3 linked regions of the Homo sapiens genome follow. The main gene of each other region encodes a partner of the protein of the gene in region 3 in a complex. Links are inferred from orthologs where the notes say so. Each region holds a gene or a part of one and is shown on either strand. Other genes may lie near its edges.

Region 1 (4,365 bases), on a different chromosome or scaffold from region 3:
AACTATCAAGTCAGTTGATTCCAGACCACAACTCTGTTACACTCACACACACAGTCGTGTCTCTGTCTCTGTCTCCCTCTCTCTCTCTCACACACACACCCACAATTATTCTTCCTGCAAAGCTTCTCAGACTGTGCATAAAAACTAGTTTCAAATCAAAACAACTTAAGTGGATATAACCAATTACTTTGTTCCCCTGAGCCTCATTTCTTGTTTTATTTTGAAAGCTTGATCCTCCTTCCACTCTAACTTCCACAGGCCAAATTCCAGTGGTCTTCACTTGGGATCTTACCTGAGACCAAACTGAATTTATCCTCAAAAGGTAACCCCCGGATATGTCCTTGGACAGCAGAAACAGACCACGTGGGCCAAAGGAAACAAGTCTGTTTCATGATCTGATCTTGGATTCACCCCACTATTTAAAGAGACCCCACAGAAGAAGGGAAGAAAAGGGCCCCCAAAAGACCAGTTAAACAAGAGACAAATAACCAGTCAAGATATTCCTTGATAAGATCCTTAAAAAGTATCTTTAATTGATGCCAAATATGAACAGATCGTAAAGTGACAGAAGCAAGTAAAATTGCATAGATGAAAACTATGCGCATCAATTAGGTTCTCAATTCATAACATTCAATGTCCTTGACCTGACATATTACACAGTTAGAGAAGGGAGAATGCGCAGTAGGTGAAGATGAGACACGTCCTTAACTCAAGGTGGAAGCAACTGGCAAACTCAAGAAATAAAATAGCGTTTTTTCAGCTTAAATGGTTTGTTGTCCTGATGGTGCACTTTAAATTAATACTACTCAATTTTTATTTTTAACCTCAGTAATACTTTATCTTTACTATTAGAGGCATGTCACATGGAGTCCATGTTGTCTACTTACATCTGCTGCATAAACAGTCCCAAAACAGTGCGCTGAAGAGAAGAAAGGTGCTTCTGCAAGGTTTGGAGAGGAGACAACTTTGACCTGGAATATTTTACAAGAGATTTCTTGTTTTGTTTTGTTTTCTTTCCATACACCATTTCTTCTTCTTTGATTGTGGTACAAAAGTTTTCTATACTCTTTGAAGTTTCACGTCATAAAGAGTAAACTCCTAGTTAGCTCCTAAATGAAAATCACTGTGACTAGGGTTAATCTCCTTAAAGCGAAAAGCCCTGAGGTCAGCAGGGCCTCACCCCTTACATACATGCTGGACTTCCCAAGAAAGCCCAGGGTCATTTTGCCTGAGCAAAGAGGCTGGCATTTAATCCCAAGGCTTCTAAACTTTATATCTGTACCCTGAATTAGTTTGCACAGTGACCCAAGGTAATGGAACAGTTTTGGTTAACAATTCAGCTCCTGTTTGCTTCTTTACAAAAATGGTAAGTAACATACATTCTTTAAAGGTTTACCTGAGTCATACTAGACATGTTCACATATACCCTGAAATTCCATGATATAAATACAGGTAGTAATATGCCACATGGTGAATGAGAGTTCACCTCCTGAGATCACAATTCAACTTGGGTTGTGTCTGGTCTTAAAATTTTAGTTTGTTTGTCTTCTTAAAATGAACATAAACATCAAAAGACTTCATTCTTGCTTGGAAAAGCCTGAAGATAACATGCTTGTTTGGCAGTTTATATTCTTTCTAACAATTTTATACTATGGATGGTTACCACCCACCAATTCTCACCACCCCAGGAATAAGTCATTCCTGGAAGAAAATGGGAAAGTGCCTTCTGCTAATGTTCTTTCTCCTTTCTTTCAATCCAATCTACCAAACTAAGAATTAAAATGTAAAATTGTTAAAAAGCATGTGTTTTGAGGTCTCCTATATTAAATGAGAGGGCTAGGAAACTATTTTTATTGACTTTTAGATGGTACCTAATTTGAAAAACGTGTAACTATACACAATGTGAAGAAGGCCTTTTATAGGCTAAACCAAATTTCTACTTTAAAAAAATGTATTCCTCATTTACCATTTACATGTATTTTTTTAATTCTCAAGCAAATCAAGATTGTGACACCACCTGTGCTTCACGTCCACCATAGTGGAATCTAAACCTGCCCTACAATTCATTTCAGGGAAATGACTGCCCACTGGCCAGAATCCTGGAGAAGGACTTGCTATTGGTTTATCTGATTCTGCAAGGCTCACCCACGAACACACTCCCAATGAGCTGATATAACTGAAAATCAGAACTCAAGTCTCCAGGGAGTGCAAGGGGAGTTGGGCACAAATGGGAAAAGGGAGATGCAAAAACAGAAAGTTTTCCTGGCTAGAATTTGTCTTCTAGAAATCTGAGGACAGAGGAAATGAATGTCTTTGGTCTCTCTGATTCAGATCACTTCAGGTGAGTTAACCACTTCAGAGATTCTGGGATGGCTAACAGCCCTGGTGTGACCAACTCTTCTATTGCCACCCTATTGAACTAGGGCCCCAATAGACTGGAAGAGAGGAATTATAGCTATCAGCACATCAGAAGTCTTCTCCTTCTGGAGAAAACACATAGTCAGGACATGAGCTGTTACAGCTCCATGCCTAGGAAGGGGAAGAAAAGGTAAAAAGGCTGCTAAAATAAATATGAATAAGTAAACCAAAAAATAGTCATCCCTTAATAGGCAGTTTTGTTAAGTGCACCTTCAGGTCTACAAAGACATTTCAACACATTACAGTGCGAGGGTAAGAGCTTGGTCAAACATTGCATGCCTATGCTACACAGATAATCCCTGTACTCCATTCTTACTGAATTCATTGCAATGAGCTACAGATGAGCTAAGCAGCATTCACTTTCCTCACACCACCCCAAACTCATAACAACAACTCACCCCCAGTCCCAGACTGACAGGTTCACCGCATGCAGCACTTTTTTCTATATCACATGCAGAAGAATCAACCAGTCCAGAGTGTAACCACGGTAAATATACCAAATACCCAAAGTCAGTCTTGGTGCCGTTTTCTCATCCATTAACCCATCCATCCCACAGTACTGAGTGGATTATTGCTGTTGACAGAGTGCGGTGTTTCAAGTTCTGTGTGCACTAGACCTCAACGTTGAAATGAAAGATCAAGATAACCCCAAGCCTGGGAGGAGGTTGGCATTTTTTTCCTAATTGGGGATTTTTAAGCAAGTAGGAAAGGAATCGCCAGAATGAGTTAAGGTTCAGACGAGAAGGAGACATCACATGGGAGGGTTTAATGCCCTGTAGTCGGATGCTGCGCAGTTCTTGGCCCCTCATCTTCCACGATGTGTGTTGTGTTCATCTCACAGATTCACAAAAGTCACATAGGAAAATAAGATATCCATGTTCTTTCTTTTAATCGAGTTAGCCAGAATGGGTGTAACTCGAGTTTCTAGGGTGATTGCCTCACTGCTAGTTCTAGGACAGGATGGGGGAAAGGGGTGGGAGAAGCAGGACAGATTTTCAGAAGAAGCTGGGCCAGAATGTCAGGTAACAGGCAGCCACATGCTAAGTGCAGAATGAAGATTCCCCACCTCAGGGTCCTTTGAAAGGCTGTGAGTACCTCTCCACCGGTGGGCAGCTGCCGAGCTCCAGAGGCCTGTGTTCCGTGGCTCTCTTTCAGCCAGGAACAGGGTCCCCACCATTCTCTGGGCTGGGTAACGGGGGGGCAGCAGAAGTTAGATGTTCAACCTGTGAAGTGACTGCCAGGTGGGAAGATCATAGGGGCATCAGGAAATATCTGAAAGGGGTAGACCAGGAGGGAAGGCCTAGGAAAGGTTATTATGAACTGAGTGTTCCCACATCCACAACAATGCCTGAAAAGACTGGACCGTCAGAGAGATTTGCAAAGTGCTGTTACCGACAGAGAAAAAAATAAGGAAAGGTGCCAGGAGCACTACACTGGACCTGAGGAAGCCTTGTGTGTCCAAAGTGGCCCTCGATAGGAAACAAATTCCCAAAAAGTTTATCTTGGCTTTGGTGGAGAGAGGAAAAAACAAGTTCACAGTTCATGTCCAGTTCAAAGATGGGTCTCAGTTCACATCCAGCGTCAGGCTGTCAAAGGGACCAATGCTAGTAGATGGCCAGAGAGACAGCACCCTCCTGGGTCTCTCCTCTCCAGGGTTTAGGGTGGTGTGGTCTTCTCACAGTGGTGAAATGAGAGAGCGAGAATGGAAAAAGAAAAAGCAAAAGGTCTGTGCCCCAACCCTTCCCCACTTTTGCTACCTAACTTCTCAGCTGTGTTAAGGAGGCACTTTCTACAGTTCACTGTGGGTACAGGATAAAGGCACTAAGCAACTATTAAATCAATTGGTTTAGTTTCTTCAGGGAGCCTCAAGGGGAGGGCTGAAGTCTCTACAGACTTCAAAGAATGACTGCAAAGAAAAAAAAATCAGCTCTGCTTCGGATGCATATA
Region 2 (7,475 bases), about 100 Mb from region 3:
CTCTCTCTCTCTATATATATATATACATATATATATATATGTGTGTGTATATATATATACACACACATCACACACAATATAAAGTCTCCAGAGGCAGCCTATATAAGCACATAAGCACACAGGTCTGGAAAAGGAAATAGCATCCTCCACTCATGAGCTTTACAGCTATGTCCCTGATGAAAACTAGAGAATCTTCCTTGATTGCTGGCACCATTAATCGCAACTGTTCCAAGATTATCCTTAGTGGAGAGAGGGGTGCAGGGATGCAGAAAACCAGGAAGAGGCCAATTTGGCTGGGGTATTGTTTGCTCAGCAGGCTAGAGCTTGATCATGGGACTTTCCAGCTTCCTGGGGCCCTTCAAATGAAGGAACCATCCAAGCACGACAACAAAAGGAAACTGGGTCGCTGGATCCCACGTGAAGGCAGAACTGGGGCAAGCACAGAGCATGTTCAAACCCTCAGGAGCTGAGACTCACCCCCGCCAAAGCCAGCCAGGCCTCTCTTCTTGCTTTTCTATCCCATTTCTTAGCCTGGAGCTGATGTGCTCCTTTCCAGCCCCACCTGGCAGGTCAAAGTCCTTGCCCTACACTTCATAGGCTAAAAAGGCAGTAATGTTAGCAGCTGACATGGAAATTGTTTGGTAGCAAAGTGCGCCCCTGAATATTCTCTTCCTCCCAGCTCCTCCTATTGCTTTCTCTAGCAGCCCAGAGCATTTATTCACTCATACAAACAAGGCATTCGGTGTCTAGGGAATCATTTTCAAGGAGAAGCAGGGCTTAGAGGCCTCTCACAGAGACTCAGAAAGACACCAGACTGAGTCCTCTGGATAGCTACCAAGGGTCCTAGCACACAGCCACATCTACACTGCCCTCAATGATCTAGATGTTGCAGTAGCTGTCCACATTATTACATAATCATGCCCTGTGCATCCATCAGTGGAATGATGCAGGGAGTTCTCAGCTGCAAACTCATCTGGAACATATTAGACTATTTTAGGAGTGCAGAGGAGCACAGAAAGTTATATCCATTTCCATGCTGAGGTTCATGAAGTACAAGAAGTAGCCATCCAGACAGGCCACCTCAACTGCCTCAGTGCACCAGCTGGTCATGTCAAGTCTGGGTTATGGGCTTCTGCTGCCTGATCACAACTAACATAGCCAGACTGGAGGGCTTCTGTGGGTGTGGGGAGATGGCAGACACCCCTGCACCACTTCAATTGCTCCAGATACAGTGAAAAATCCCTCCCACTCCCATCTAGGTAGAAAGCAACAGTCAAATGCAAGAGGTGAGGCTGAGAGAAACTGTCTTCCATGGATCTAACACACTAGCAGGCAAGAGGGAGAATGAGAGCAGGTTTTAGCTTGCATCCAGCTGTTTCTTGAGTGATGTGTACAGCTTACCCCCAAAGAGGCAACTGAATTTCAGCTGCTCTAATACCCACACCCTCAACTTAGGTTTAGTCATAATAAAAAACAGAATGGATTTGTTAGTTCCATTGATTGCCACAAACCTCACCTTCTGTGTGGCAGAGATGTGCTTTAGTTCTTCATTGGAATGTTACTTTCAGATCTCACAAACCTCAAACCTAGGGCACCACCAATGACAAAGAGAATGCTAAATAGATAAATCCTTTGCCAGGTCTTCAAGCTTTCCACTCCCCTCGAGTACAAAGTTTGGAATAACTTTTCTGATCCTCAGTGATGAGGTTATAGCCAACCAGGGCAGACAGAAGAAAGGCTAAAGCACCTGGCTGTTAGATCAGACTTCCCTTTTATCCCTGAGTCAGGCAGCCACCTGGGAGGGAAAGGAAAGAGGTGATCCTGTAGCCTGTTCTTTTTTTATGAAAGATCTGCCTTCTAGAGAGGTCCCTAAGCAGAAAAAAAAAGAGTAGAACTGGAGAGGTGAAAAGAATGCAAAGGAGGTCATTCAAAAAATGCACATAAATGCAGTTTATTCCTTGGATTGCCAAATTTATTCCACATAAGTGAAACTAAGGAGATTGGTCAATGTATAATTCTATAATTTAAAAATAGTATACATATATACATATACTATATATATATATATACACACATAAATATATGTATATATGGAAAACCTCTAAAAACTCAGGACCAATTAACCAAAACCTCGATTGACAAGAATTATGTTTTCTTACTATCCTTTCAGTAGAAAGAGGCAAATGACAGCAAGGGCTCCGATGAGCCAGGATGTGCCCCAGTGGCCCATTTCCAGGCCTGTCTTGTAGCCAGCAGCCATTCAGCCTGTCTCTTTGGTCTTCTCTACCTATGTCCACTACTGTACAATAAGCATTGAGGTTTACAATGTTGACCCTGAGCAAGGCAAGGTCCCTGTTATCTTCAAACACTCTACTTAACTAAGGCAGGAAAGTTATGCTAACCTACTTAGGAAATATTTTTCTCAATAACAAAGGTTGAACCAGACATGCTTTCCCATTCCCACTCAAATAACCAAAATTGCAAAGCAATCAGGATGTTCCTGTCCCTGAGGTTTCCCCATCAGTTAACTGAGGTTTTGCTGTACATATGTGTATAGAGCAAGGTAGATCAAAAAAGGATGGAATGGGACCCTGGGGTTGCCAGCCTTCCCTGATTGTCCAGTCTGAACATTTAAGCTCACAGATGTTAGGAAAGGGGACTCTTCTGAAGCCCCTGGCTATGTGTGCAAATATTTGTGCAGCTGCACACTCTAGCGGGTGGTAGAGTCTTTATTTCACTAATGTCATGCCCTAACCACCCAAACTTCTATCCCTGTAGACTTCTACTGAAACCCACAAGAACCTGCTTCCTTCTGCAGCTCTCACGGAGTCCCTTTGGTTGAGCAAGTCAGCTTATTTTGAAAGAGAGTCAGAGGGCAATTCCCAAATCTGCCCAGGCTACTGATCCCAAGTGCAAACCTCCAGGCCACATTCCCTCAGCATCCGTCTCCCTGGGGAAGGGAGAAGGGGAAGCAAAAGGATCAAGTAATGGCTTTTAGTGCATGGAAATGATCTTCTGTAATGGCTCAGGATGCTTTATTCTTATCTATTGGGAAGTGCTTTCGTGTAGGCTTCCATTACATCTGCCAGACTGAGGGAAAGTCAACAAAATGGGCTGAAAAGGTCACACAAACTTAGGATTTTCATGCCTAGAGGTTGTAAGGATGCTGTATGACAGCAGGCAGAAATGGGGAGACAGAGGGAGAGGGGACAGAGACACACATGGAGACAGAGAGGTGCACACAGGAAGGAGACAAAGTGACAAAGCCCTCTCACAGGCCTTCCTTGTGCATACACTGCATCTTAGCATATGTGTCCATTCCAGAAGGAGGTCAGATCTCAAGAGGACAGGAGTCATGTGAACACGTGGGAAGAAGAAGAAACTACAGAGACTGTGAATGAGCCCCCAGAAGTCAAGGGCATTATCTGATAATCCAGGTACTATCTATCACTTTTCAGTCCTGAGAGCAAGATTTTGAAAGAGCTATTGCTAAAGAAAACAGTCACTATTTATTTTATTGCACTTTTCCTCTTTAAAAATATTCAAACACAAACTATGAGAGATGAAGCTGAGATTTGGTGGGAAGGGAAGCAGAAAAAAAGGAAAAGTAAACTAGGTTAGTTTGAGGAAGAGAACCTTCCTGCATGTAGGGGAGCCCCTACCTCCATCTGTCCCTGCTGGTTGCTTTGATAGGGGAACAGGGTTGGACTCAACAAGGGCTAAGTCTGAAGATATAGATGATGGTCACAATAGCTACTGAGAGAGCTCCCAGCATCCCCCTCTCTGCGCGTTGGCTCAGGTGACTGATGATGTTAATGAGGTTAAGGTCATGAGTTCAAACCCGGCAATGGATACCTTGCCAAGGCTAGGGGAACCTCCATTGTGCAACCAAGGAGCACCATGGATATTATAGCCCTCGCAGATGAGGCGGCCATCACCCACATACAAGTTATTATGACAATGGGCCCCAGGAAAGCTCTGGGGAGCAGAGCTCAGCACCATCATCCCCTCTCTTGAGTAAACAAGTCAAAGCACTGTGCTCCCCTGCCTGACATAGGGGTAGTGGTGCCACCTTCATATGCAATTTGCACACTGTTCTATAGTTTCCTTAGGGGGGAGTCAGCCTCTGTGACTCTACTACTGTGGGCAGTGCTGAATCCCCAGCCTGAGGAGCTTCAGAGGGTGCTGTCCTCTCTCCACATGGGTTGATACTGATAGAGTCCTCACTATAATATAGTGAGAGATCCAGGAAGAATAGGTAGAACAAGCTAGTCCTGGGCCCTCCCAACACGGAGCAGCAACATGAACACCCAGGCTGGGGTCTCAGGCCATCATAGCTTCCATGGGAGCCCTTTCCATACTAGGCTAACGCAATCTAGAGGCACACTCCCGTGGGGCCCCTTTTAAAAGGCTAACCTCATGGTGACATGCCAACACTAGCCTCAGAAACACAGGTGAGAGGGACAGAGGCAAGCAGAGAAGAAGGAAGAGAGCATGTCAAATATTACTGAAGTTTCAGAAAGCACAGAGCCTTAATTATTTTCTTAATTAAATGTTGGCTCCTAAAAAGTTTACTCTGAAATTTGACCCACTCAGCCACTCTCTCTTCCTGACAATCTCTCCACCTTTCCTGGGCCTATTCCTTTTCGGTCTCCTGAAAACTCCAAGTTTCTTGAAAATGAATCCACAGAGGCACTTGATGAAGCCAACAGGAATGGTACCTTGACCTGGAAACACAAGTTTCCAGCAAAGCACACGTTTTGGACCCATATGTCCACTCCCTACTGTTGTTACCTTTTCTGTAGAGACTGGGAGCTGCGACCATCACTGGAAGGGAGAGTGAGACACAACGGGATGGCTGCAGGAGCAGAAATCAGGAGTGAGGCCTGATCCAAAGCCTGACTGCAACTCTTTACTTCCGATGTAGGTGAAGCCTTTGCTAAAATGCACTCAGCTCTCAGCTAGTCCTACTTAGGGGAAGAACCAGCTCCAAGAGTAATCCAAAATGGTGGGTAATCTTAGAAAGTATTTAAATATGGCCTTAGAATATAGGATAAAGTCAGGCCCTCTAAAAAGTGTTAGCTTGCTTAGCCTTAGATGTATGTTCTTAATCACTTTTTACTTAAGCTGAACTGGGTTGCATAGCAATTGGATGGGAGGCAGGGCATCCAGGGGAGCCCAACAAGAGGAAAAGGAAGAGCGTGCCCGGGATTGAACACACCCAGAGGGGAATCAGGAGTTGGCCCCTTTGGGCTTATGCACAAGAGCAAGTGAAATGCCACAAGCAAGTAAAGGTGGCTCATTTTAAGAGACAGGTCTCTATAGGGTCTCAACTTCCTGACCGTGCCCCCAACAAAGCTGCAAAGGATGGAAGGGCAATAAAATCTGTGGGCTTAGAGAATGTTGGGGACATCTTTACCCTGGTCCTGGGCTCAAGATCCTGCAGTTTCTTGAGCCATTACTGCTTTTAAGAGAATAGGGCTGAATCTGGAGATCCCAGGTGCTGGGAGAAGGGGAGCCTGGGCTATTGGGTTGTCTGTGCGGATTTGCTGGAAGGAAGGAAGGGTCATGGCAAGGAGGCCTATATTAGGCTACCAGCTGTCCCAGGTACTTTCACACCCTGCACCCAGGTTTCTGGTGGGAGGAAGGTGAATTGGTAGAGACCCCATGCAATTCCTGGTCTTAGTCAGATATCTGCTTGATGTGGTGGCCCATCCTCCTGCTTGAAACCTAGGAGTTACTTCTCAGGAGTGAAATCTGGTAGTGAGAGAAAAGAATAGAGAAAGAGATTCCTTGAAAGATCCTGGGGGATATAGACACAGGCCAGGCAAAGGTGATTACATCTGATCTTTTGTTTGTGCCTGTTAATTCATAGCTCTGGGGGCAGGGCAATGGGTCTGAGTATATGTCTGCATTTCATGTGTATTGTGCGATATTTTTGGGCATGTGTGCTATGTATCTTGTATGCCTATTATAAGTTAATGCATCGTGTGTATATACTGAGTTTGTGTGTATTTTATGTGTAGAAACAATGGTAAAGTAGCCTTTGTGTATCTTATATGCATATGCATTTTGTCCATGTAGTTTTTTATGTATTTTGCATCTGAGTTTCAGGTTGTATATTTGTATGTGGTGTATGTTTGTCTTTTGTGTATGTTCTGTGTAAATTCTATATCTGTGCAGAGTGTGCATTTTATATACAATTATAACCATATATCTTCTGTGTTTGCTTTTATGTTAACCTGGTCTGTCTGTATTTTGCACGTTACATGTTTTATGTTTGTGTGTGACAACAGTGTACCTATTTTGTGGTGAATGTGCATGACTGTATGTGAACATTTTAGAGTCCTGGGCCAAGGACACTGTGATAAGATATCTATCCCTGACCTAGGCCTCAGATATGGGTTGCTTTACCTTCTATTTTCCAAAGATCTGTGTCCCTCCCACCCCATGCCTTGGAAATTCAGCACCACCTCCCATGAAGGAGAGGAAGAGAAGCACAGAGGCTTTGTGCTGGGCATGGGATGCCCTGCAGATACCTGGGGATGTGGGTGACCAGGCACTAATGAGCACCCTGGGCCTAGCACCCTGAGCTGGTGCCCCATGCCCCAAGACAACTGTAGGTGCTAACTAGGCAGCAGTGAGGCCTGGGCTGGAGCCACCCCTGCATAGCCCGACCCCTGCAATTCACTGTTTGGGAAAATTAAGCTACTCCGTCAAAAGGCAAAGACGCCCAGTCTGGTGAGTTAAAAGCCCCCTACCTGAAGCCATTTCAGGGTCAACCTACTGTCTACCTTTAGGCTGTGCAGTGCTCATTTGCACTCTACTTCTTCTGGGGGGTGGGAAATGATTCTTTACCCATCCTTTGGTTCTTTTTAAAAAGCAGCTCTGGTTGCCAGTTTAATGGGGAGAGAGTTTGGGTCTGGAGATCAAAATGATGCCTTTGGATCATCTAGGGACTCCATCACTTAGTCCCGGACTTCAGACATTTCCACATAGAGGAGGCTCCCTTTAGGTCCAGATCAGTGGAATTTGGTCCCAGGGAGTCCTACTCCTTGGTGTCCTTGGTTTCAAAGCAGGGGATCCATTCTGGCTCTTTAGCGAAAGGTTTGTGAAAGTGACGGATGCAGAGCCAAATGATAATAAGATCCAAGTGGCAAGGGAAGAGGTGAAAATGGAGATGATGAACAGGATGAACTGTAGAGAGGAGGCCCGGGGTGGGTCTGGCCCAGGACAGCTGGAACTGTGAGGGCCACAGGGCCCTTGTGCACTCAGTAAGACAAGCTTCAGCCATGGGAACTGAAGCTGCAGCACATGGAGGGCAGAAAGACAATTCTAACGTCTAGGAATCCATGGATACCGGAGTGTCTGAGGCAATGGCAGCAAACCCAGGCCCAGTGGGGTTACCAATGAGACAAATTAACCCATTAGGCCTCTTAGACAGCCAACCCACCAAGCAGTGGATTTGCTCCTGA
Region 3 (8,414 bases):
CGAGCTTGGTAGGCATGGCCCCTGCCGGGACCCAGTGGGGCAGGTTGGAGCAGAAAAGGATGGGAGAGGAATCTGTGGTCAGGCCCCAGATTCCTGGAGCCCTTGGAAAGTGGGAGGTGGAGGAAGACCCCCAGTGGGGAGGCCCTGCCCCAGCAACCAAGGCCCTGGCAGAAGGGGCCCCTCGATGGGCCAGACCCCTTTCCCCTCTCCCCCTACACCAAGTGGGGATTCTCAGCAGAGGAGAGGCTGGCCCTGCCCGCCCCAAGGACCCAACCAGGCCTTGGCCTGGCCTTGACTTTGGGAACCTTGGAAATCTTTGGGCCTTGACTTTGGGAATCTTGGCTGTGGCTGGGAGAAAGCTGGGTGGTCTTGGAGGATGAGCAGAGGTGACAGGCTTGGGTGGGACCGTTTGAACATCCTTCCTAACCAGTGCCTTCCCCGGCACAGACTGGACTTCGACATTGTCCGGCGAAGCAGTGGGTGGTGTCTGGCAGCGACTTGGGAGATCATTTCCCGATGACATCACAGTGTGGTGTTTTCTCTTGGATGCAAACCACACTCTTCACTTGGCTTCAAAACAGCTTAAGCGAGCGAACAGAGACTAGGAGGGAACGGAAACTGTCCGAGCAGGCGGGCGGGGGCGGCTTAGGATCTGTAGTCCTTTTTGCTGTAGGGTTTATTGCCCAAAATACTATCAATCTCGTGGATAATGGAAGATGACAGTTTCGGAAGGACCTGCGTGCAAGAACAACAACAAATCAGAATCCCACCAACAAGACGGGCCTGGCCTGGGGAGGAGGTGGGGCCAGGCTCTTCCAGATGGTCGGCTGGCCAGGCCCGGGTTGCCCCATCACATCTGGGCTCCATCTGAGGCAGATGGAGGCCACGCTGCTTTTGTGTTTCAGAAGGTTTGGGGCAGAGAGGAAGCATGCCTGGGTCTGTGCACTCCCTCTCAAATGTCAAGGTGCCCTAGAACCTTCCTGAAGGGTGGTGGCAGCAGTGACATAAAATGGAAACTCCAGGCCAAATGCTGGACTTCCATGTCCGTGACTGCTTTTTCCAGCTGCGCCTGCCTCAGCATACAGCACCGCCACCCTTCCGGGTGACACACCCGGGGACCGACTTCCACCTCGCCTTCTCACCCCCACATCCAGTTTGTCAGCCAGTCCCGGGGGCCCCACCTTCCCAAACATCCAGGATCCAACCACCACTCCCGTCTCGGACCCGCAGCTGCCACTTCCCACCAGGGCTCTCTGCTTCGACTTTTGCTTCCCAAAGCCTCCCCGATGGAGCAGCCGGAGAGCAGCCTCCCTTTCCAGGCTGAGCTGCAGCTCGCCCTCCTCTGCCCACAATTTTGCCACGGCTCCCGTCTCACTCAGAAGTCCCTGGAGGTGTTTCGTGCCTCTCAGGATCTGCCCCTCTGCTCCAGGCCTTTTTGGGCCTTTGCATCAACTCTTCCTGCTGGTGGAAGGTTCTTCCCGCAGGCATTTGCGTGACTTACTCCGCATCTCTCAAGACTGCTCAAGCACCACCTTCTCAACAAGCCCACCTGACAGGCCCCCTTGAACCTGAGTCTGCAGCGCCACCGTCCCTGGCCCCAGCTCCCTCCCTTTATCTCTGGCTTCTCTCCTACAGCGCTCGTCCACCCTGACACACATTCTAACCTCCTTGTTTCGTGCAGTTAGTGTTCATGTCTGTTCCTGCTGGAAAGCAAGCTCTCCAGGAGCACAACTCTGATGGTTCACGGGCGCATCCTGAGTGCCTAGAACAGAGCCTGGCACGCAGGACGAGCCTGGGAGGATGCACTGGACGGGGCTCGGGCTGGGATGGGCCCTCTGCCCAGCAGGGCCTCTCACTCTTACCTGTATTGCCCCAATGTTCTCCATGAGCTGGTCCGCATTGGAGGCCCCCAGGAGCACGGAGCTGACTCCCTCATTCCTCAGGCACCAGGCTGTGGCGGCGAGACCCAAGGTGAGGGAGAAACACCCACCACAGGGGCCCCTGATGGGTCTGCCTTGCCTCTGACTGGGCCGAGAGACCCAGCATCTTGGTCTGGGGGTCTGAGGGGGTCTAGGAAGCCCTGCAGTGCTGGGCACGGGCTTTGTCTAAGAGGTGGCTGGAGGAGGCATGGGGGAGCCCGCTGCTCCCTGATGGAGAGGTGGCCCAAGTGCTTAGCGCTCCCCATCCTCTTCCCATGAAAGCGGGAGCCCCATTACCTATGGCTGGCAGATGGAGGGGGTGGCCCAGGTCCTCAGGGACTCCTGACATCCCCCTAGAGGCATGGGGTCCCAACCATGCCCCTTAGAGCCCGATTACCCGAGGCTGGCTGGGGGATGATGTCCAGGGATCCCTTCCCTCTCTCCCCGGAGACACTGGCCCCATGGCAACCCCACCCTGTTACCTACGGCCAGCTGGGGCAGGTTCTCCCCAGGGGCACTGGCCCCATGGCGACCCCACCGTTACCTATGGCCAGCTGGGGCAGGGTGCAGCCCAGGCGCTCGGCGATGGCCTGCAGCTCCTTCAGCTTGGCTTGCTGGCGCCGGCCCTCCTCACTGAGGATCTTGTCCTTCAGCCACTGGTAGCCCTGGTTGCGGGGGAGGGGAGCAGCACAGCTACAGATGAGAGCAGGTCACCTGGACCCCCACGTGCAGGGGGCCGATGGGCTCATTCCTTCTGGACCCTTCTCCCTCATAGGGGCTCTTCTCATCTTGAAGCCAGGGCAGTGCCCCTGCCCCAGGCCTCTCAAGTAGGGGAGAGTGGGCAGTGGGCCGGGCACGGGCTGGTGGATGAGCGGGGCCTGTCCAGGCTCTGAAGTGCAAAGACTGTGGTGCTGGCCCAACCCCAAGTCAGGACAAGGAGGCGAGGTGCTGGCCTTCCTTCTCTTAGGAAACTTGGCAGCCTGGGGTCTCGGCTGCCACCCGTGGCCCAGAAGAACCTCCTGGCCCTAGGGGAGTGCTCTCTCCCCTGGCCATCCCCCCCAGAGGATTGCAGGGCCTCCTGGAGGGGGGCCCTGACCTTGCCATGGGATGGGAGGAGTCGGGGGCCAGGCCACGTTGCCCTGGAACCCAGGGCTGTGGGCCCCAGTGCTGAGACTGCTGGCTGGGCAGACTTTCTTGGCCTGCTCCTTGTTCTCCAGATCCTGCAGTCTGGGGACCCTCCTGAGTCCCCACTCAGAGGTTGTGTGGTGGGGAGGGGCGCCTCTCCCAGGGTCACCTCCATGTGGCTTTGCAGCCCCCATCTCGGAGCCCAGGCCCAGGGGTCTCAGAGTTCTGAATGCTGGGCTGTGGTGGGGGGCAGAGGTGGGGGATGTGGTAGGGGGTAGAGATGGGGGGATGTGGTGGGGGCAGGGGGGGGGATGTGAAAGGGCCTCTCCACTTGGGCCTGTGCCACAGGCTGGGCAGCCCCTCTACACATGGGATCAGGCCAGGAGGGGCTCCATGTTCTCACGCCAAGGAGCCCGCCCCCAGCAGACCGAGGTGGGAACAGCTGCAGCTCCCGGAACCCCTGCCCAGCACCAAAGCAGTCGGCCCAAAGGTCCCACCCGTCCAAAATGCCTATCCCCTGCCCGTCCCTCCCCACCAGGCTGTTCCTTCACCTTCAAGGAGGCTCTTGAGTAGGGTGGGATGCCACTGTCGTACTTGCCAGAAACAATGCCACAGGCCAGAGGGGACCAGGTCATGGCGCCCACTCCTGAAGAGGAAAAGCAGGTGGAGTCAAGCCCTGGGCCCGAGAGCAGGGGTGGGGTGGGGCGGGGCGAGGGGCCCGAGGGTGCCCACCTATCTTGTGGAACAGCTCCGGCAGCTGCACCTCCACTTTCTCACGCTGGAACATGTGGTACTCAGCCTGCTCGCAGATGGGCGGGGTCAGGTTGAACTGCCGGGCCACGGAGTAGGCCTCCTGTGAAGGCAGAAAGGGACCCCGAGGGCCCTTGCCTGTGAGCAGGCGGGAGGCTGCCGGGGCAGCCATGGAGAGGGCACCAAGGTGTCCCCGGAGCAGGCTGGCCCAGCAGCTGCAGCCCGGGCTCCCCACTGCTCACACTCATAGCTTCCCTGGGAGCCAGGCAGGCCCTGGTGAGCTGGGAAAAGGAGGTGGGTGGTGGGACCCCCAGGCCGGAGGGTCCAGTTATGAGCAGCCCAGGCTCTGAACCACACAGCCTGGATGTTAATCTTGGCCCAAGCTGTGTGACCTTGGCATGTTACTGAACCTCTCTGTGCCACAGTGTCCACATCTGAAAAATGGGCTGCCTGCGGCACTCACCTGGTAAAGGCACCGGTGAGGATTGCATGTGAGAGGGTCCCTGTGGAACCCTTGACCCTAACAGCACCGGGCACGTCTCAGGAGCCCAGTGGAAACAGCTGACGGTGTTGTCACCCCAGAGTGCTTGCTGAGCTCCAGGGCATCTGCTAAGAGCTTCACACTGGCTCTCTCAGGGACTCCTTAGAATGGCCCCATGGGGGCTCACCTAGCAGATGTGTTCTACAGGTGGGGAAACAAGCTCAGAGACGTTAAGCCATTTGTCCAGGGCCACACAGCGCTGGGATCCATGCAGAATCCCCGTCTGCAAGGCCTACAGACATAACCACCACACTCCACCATCCTGTCCCTCCCTTAGCACCCAGGCATCGGTGCAGTTGGGACCAAAGGCACAGACCCCGCCAGAGCTTTGGGGTCTCCATACGCAGCCGGTGCCGGGAGTCTGTGCCTGGACACACACATGCTGCGCGGCCACCGTACCATGATCTCCATGGAGCTCCAGCGTGACGTGCCCCAGTACATGGCCATCCCCTGGTTGATGACGTGGGTCATGGCGCGGACGGTCTCTGTCGTGAGAGAAAGGGAAACCGCAGGTGGGGGGCAGCCAGGGCTCAGGGCCAGCCTCGGGACATTCTGCAAATACAGGCAGGACGCTGGGAGGAGGGACAGGGGCTGCGAAGATGTCTTGCAAGCAGTGTACTTCCTGGCTCTGAAGTTGGGTGTGGGAGGGGTTTTTTGGGATGAAAGAGAAAAGTGAACCACAATCCTAGAAGTTGGTCGTGAAAACAATTTCCCCGACTGGTTACAGGCCTATGGAAATGTTGAAAAATGGGTTATGGATGGACCGTGATGTTTCTATGGTAGATTAGAGGGGACAATCAAAGAATGTGGCTCTGGACTCTAGAACTGGAGGTTCTCTGGTCTGGGGAAGATTCGAGGGCCCCGATCACTCAGGAAGGACCAGGTGAATGCATGAACGTTACAGTCAGATTGGCGGCAGGAGGGACATGTGTTTTTGCGTTTCTGGTCTCCTACTTCGGGCTATTCCAAAGTCTAATTGGAACAGAGAGTGGGCTGGATAAGGAGATGTGGCAGGACCTGGGGCGCCATATGGTCCCGGAGAATAGGGCTTCGGGGCTGAGCTCATGTTTCCTGTCATGTCCAGGAGACTGAGAAGTGGGCGTGGAAAGCCTTGTAAGACCATGGCCCAGGTTCTCAAACCAGCCCAGCACCAGGCCAGAGTCCCAACCCGCCTGTCCCCTGGCAAGGGGTGGTCCCAGGGCCACAGGGGTCTGGGTGCTCCTCCTGTGAGGGGCCAGGGCCTGGAGTAGGACAGTTTTGAGGCTCCATGAGCCCTGGGAACAACCTGAATCGTGGACGGCGGAGACTCCTAAGGCCCTGAGGATGAAATCGCGGAGACTTCACGCTGGCCTTTTAAAGAAGAGAGGAGGGACCCTCGCCCCAGCGACACAGTGGATTCTTCCCAATATTCAAACATGGCTTTGAGACACAGCAATCTGCTGGTTATAGCTCCCTCTCAGCCTCATGGGGATATTGTGATTTTAAAAACAGAACTTGGCGTCGAAATTTCAAATTTCAGAAGCCTCTGAGCTTTGCAGGGCGAGGGACTATGGCGCTAGGCTTCTCACGGGTCGGATACAGTGCTTGCAAGTTCGACCGCCAAAGGCAGTGTGGGAGTGAGTGGGAGTGCAAGTGTTTCTAAAGACAGCAACAACGTTGACCCTGGAAAAGCCCTGGCTCTCCCTCAGTGCCTGCTTGTCCTTTGCCCATGCTGCGTGGAAGCTGAGGTCCTGAAAATGCTGGGAGTGGGGCTGATGGGAAGGAAGGAAGGATGGAAGATGCTGGGTTTGTTCTGCAGGCTCCCCCCTGGAATGGCAACGAGGCCACAAAGTGGCAGTGCTGGCTTCCCGTCCACTTCTGTTTTGGGGGTCGCTCCCTGAGTGCCCCTTTACTGAGGTCCACCCTGAGCAGAACCTGGGGCCTCCTAAAGGCTAGAGCTGAGGCCACTGGGGTTTCTGGAGTGGTGGTCTCGGCAGACTCACCCAGGACCCCTGGCAAACCACCCTTGGCTTCCACGCTTGCAGGCCCAGCCCTGCTCTCTGCTTACTTCCAAGGTCAGAGGTTGTAGCTCCTGGGAATCCTCTCTGTCCCCTCCTGGGGGTGGAGATCTGGGAGGGAGTCTGAACTCTCTGGGCCACCTCCCTGGGCCACCTGCTTTAACTGCCAACTCCGATAGACCCTCAGGAAGTGCCTGGTTGGGAAAGTTTGAGGAGAACCTAGAGGGTCCCAGGAGAATCTCTGACTACATCCTGCCCAGGTCCGGGCTCCTGGCCTGCCCGGCCTTGTGGTTTTTTAGAAACACTCTCGGGGCACCTGTGAGCATGCAGCATCAGTTCCCGATTCTTCTCAGCCAAGGCTTAGGTCCACATGCCAGACAGAGGGAAGCCAAGGCCCCCAAGGCCAGCCCCGTTCCCTCACTCTCCCTCCCCGGCAGCTGTCTCAGGTCTCCAAGGTCCCAGCCAGTGAAACCGCATGCTGCCCTGCGGCGCCCCTTCCATGCAGTGATGGAGAGACGGGGCTGACGGGGCAGGAGCCTCTGGCTGTCCTGAGGTGGGGAGTCCTAGGCAAAGGCCCCTGGGCTCCCTGGAGGATCTGGGCAGAAGCAGGCTGGACAGGGAGCCCACATGAGGGAGCACCCTGCACTTGTGCCCAAGTGTGATATCAGTGGCCCCAGACCCAGGGACAATTAGGGACAACTGTCCTTCACCTCAATATTTAATGGGGTTGAACGGAAGTAGGAAGACTGAATCCTTCTAGCTGCTGCCAAAACTCACAGCATCTCCTGCCGCATCACAAATAATACATGGGGGTTCAGGTGGCAGCACCAGTTGGCAGACAGGGGCCCAGGCCCAGGGAGATCGACACCTGCCCTTGGGGTGGGGTCCTGGGGCCGTTAGCTGTGGGGAGGGCAGAGAGACTGTGCGTGGCCAGAGGCCACCCCCTGGTTTCAGAAGGCTGCCGGCTCCTGTGGTTATTCTTTCAGGAGGAAAATGATTCCACGTTGATGGAGCGCTTTGGCAACCTGGTGAGAGGGGACACGCAGCCAGCATGCCGTCCGAGGAGCAGCGTGCTGTGGACGGGGCAGCGTGACAAGCCAGGTGATCTCTGCCTCCAGGAGAGACAGGAGCTTAGCAAACATAAACCATGGAGGAGCTAAGACTCGGTGGGGGGCCGCGTGTTTTGGGGTCCCTGATGGCTTTGCTCCTTGTGGAAACCTGGTCTTCCCCAACCCTTCCCATGGCACCATCCAGGGTCAAGGCTCCAGGTGGGGATCACAGCATCCTCAGATCAAGAGGACCCCCGGCCGCCGCGGAGCTCAGCAGTGCAAGCCCAGGGGTGGGGGCCATGCACGGGAGGAAGGAGGAACGAGGGGATGGGGGGCTGGGGGCGAGGGGCTCCAACACCACTTTGCTTTTCCTTCACTTGCAAGGTGTTCTCATAGGGTGCTCTTTCCCCTCTTTATGCATTTTATGGAGAAGTTTCTCATGGGGTAAAAGAATCATGTAAATAAAAATACTGTCTCATAAAATGCAGCTTGGACACAGAAGTCAATAGTCAGGCTGGGGGCACTGTGTACCTTCTATGATGAATGTCCTTGACTTGGAGGAACTAAATGGGTCCCCTGGTGATAGAAGAAAGATTTAAAGAGACCAGAGTTGATAGCTGGGAGCACTGAGAGGCGTGGCACGACGAAGGCACAGCGGGGAGGCACAAATCACCGTGCAGAACACGCGTTTAGTTAAAAAGGAAAAAAATATATCAACACACGCACGTGCGTGCTGTATATGAACAAATAAAAAACAATAACTGGAACACAATTTAACTTTCAAGTCCCTGCAGCAGCAAAGCACACATGGAAAGACGCCTGTAGCAGGAGGATGGGGGAGCGGAGGGGGCTGAGATCGCAGGAGTAGAAAGAATAAAAAACGCCAAAGTAACCAAAACCGATTTTCAAAGCGCTGAACGCTTCTTCTCCTCTATGTAGTAATTTATCCCCCAGAGCAAAAAAGTCCCCCCAAGCTTCCCAATGGATGGTGATTGGAGAGAACACCGCAGTTGGAGTCCCCACACTGCGACTT

Evidence for each region. Proteins that work in one complex are often made in the same cells at the same time.
Region 1: the proteins of KCNAB2 (region 3) and KCNA1 are in contact, whole or in part, in a crystal structure (PDB 1EXB), measured with the Rattus norvegicus proteins. The link is inferred for Homo sapiens from one-to-one orthologs. Residues at the interface, in NP_059000.1 of Rattus norvegicus: Met196, Tyr199, Ser200, Arg203, Glu231, Lys235, Ile236; in NP_775118.1 of Rattus norvegicus: Glu37, Met70, Phe73, Asp74, Pro75, Leu76, Asn78, Tyr80.
Region 2: the proteins of KCNAB2 (region 3) and KCNA2 are in contact, whole or in part, in a crystal structure (PDB 5WIE), measured with the Rattus norvegicus proteins. The link is inferred for Homo sapiens from one-to-one orthologs. Residues at the interface, in NP_059000.1 of Rattus norvegicus: Met193, Met196, Tyr199, Ser200, Arg203, Glu231, His234, Lys235, Ile236; in NP_037102.1 of Rattus norvegicus: Asp28, Glu33, Pro62, Met66, Phe69, Asp70, Pro71, Leu72, Arg73, Asn74, Tyr76.

What each region holds. Positions count from the first base shown.
Region 1 is NC_000012.12:4,914,392-4,918,756, reverse strand, and holds the end of KCNA1 (potassium voltage-gated channel subfamily A member 1), read right to left. Parts: 3' UTR 501-4,365; downstream 1-500. UniProt on the Homo sapiens protein: Voltage-gated potassium channel that mediates transmembrane potassium transport in excitable membranes, primarily in the brain and the central nervous system, but also in the kidney.
Region 2 is NC_000001.11:110,594,283-110,601,757, forward strand, and holds part of KCNA2 (potassium voltage-gated channel subfamily A member 2), read right to left. Parts: 3' UTR 1-7,475. UniProt on the Homo sapiens protein: Voltage-gated potassium channel that mediates transmembrane potassium transport in excitable membranes, primarily in the brain and the central nervous system, but also in the cardiovascular system.
Region 3 is NC_000001.11:6,090,806-6,099,219, reverse strand, and holds part of KCNAB2 (voltage-gated potassium channel subunit beta-2), read right to left. Parts: intron 7,958-8,414; coding exon 7,913-7,957; coding exon of another isoform or gene 7,884-7,912; exon of another isoform or gene 4,840-7,883; intron 4,821-4,839; coding exon 4,735-4,820; intron 3,898-4,734; coding exon 3,777-3,897; intron 3,691-3,776; coding exon 3,596-3,690; intron 2,585-3,595; coding exon 2,464-2,584; intron 1,952-2,463; coding exon 1,863-1,951; coding exon of another isoform or gene 1,689-1,862; exon of another isoform or gene 1,665-1,688; intron 736-1,664; coding exon 646-735; 3' UTR 1-645.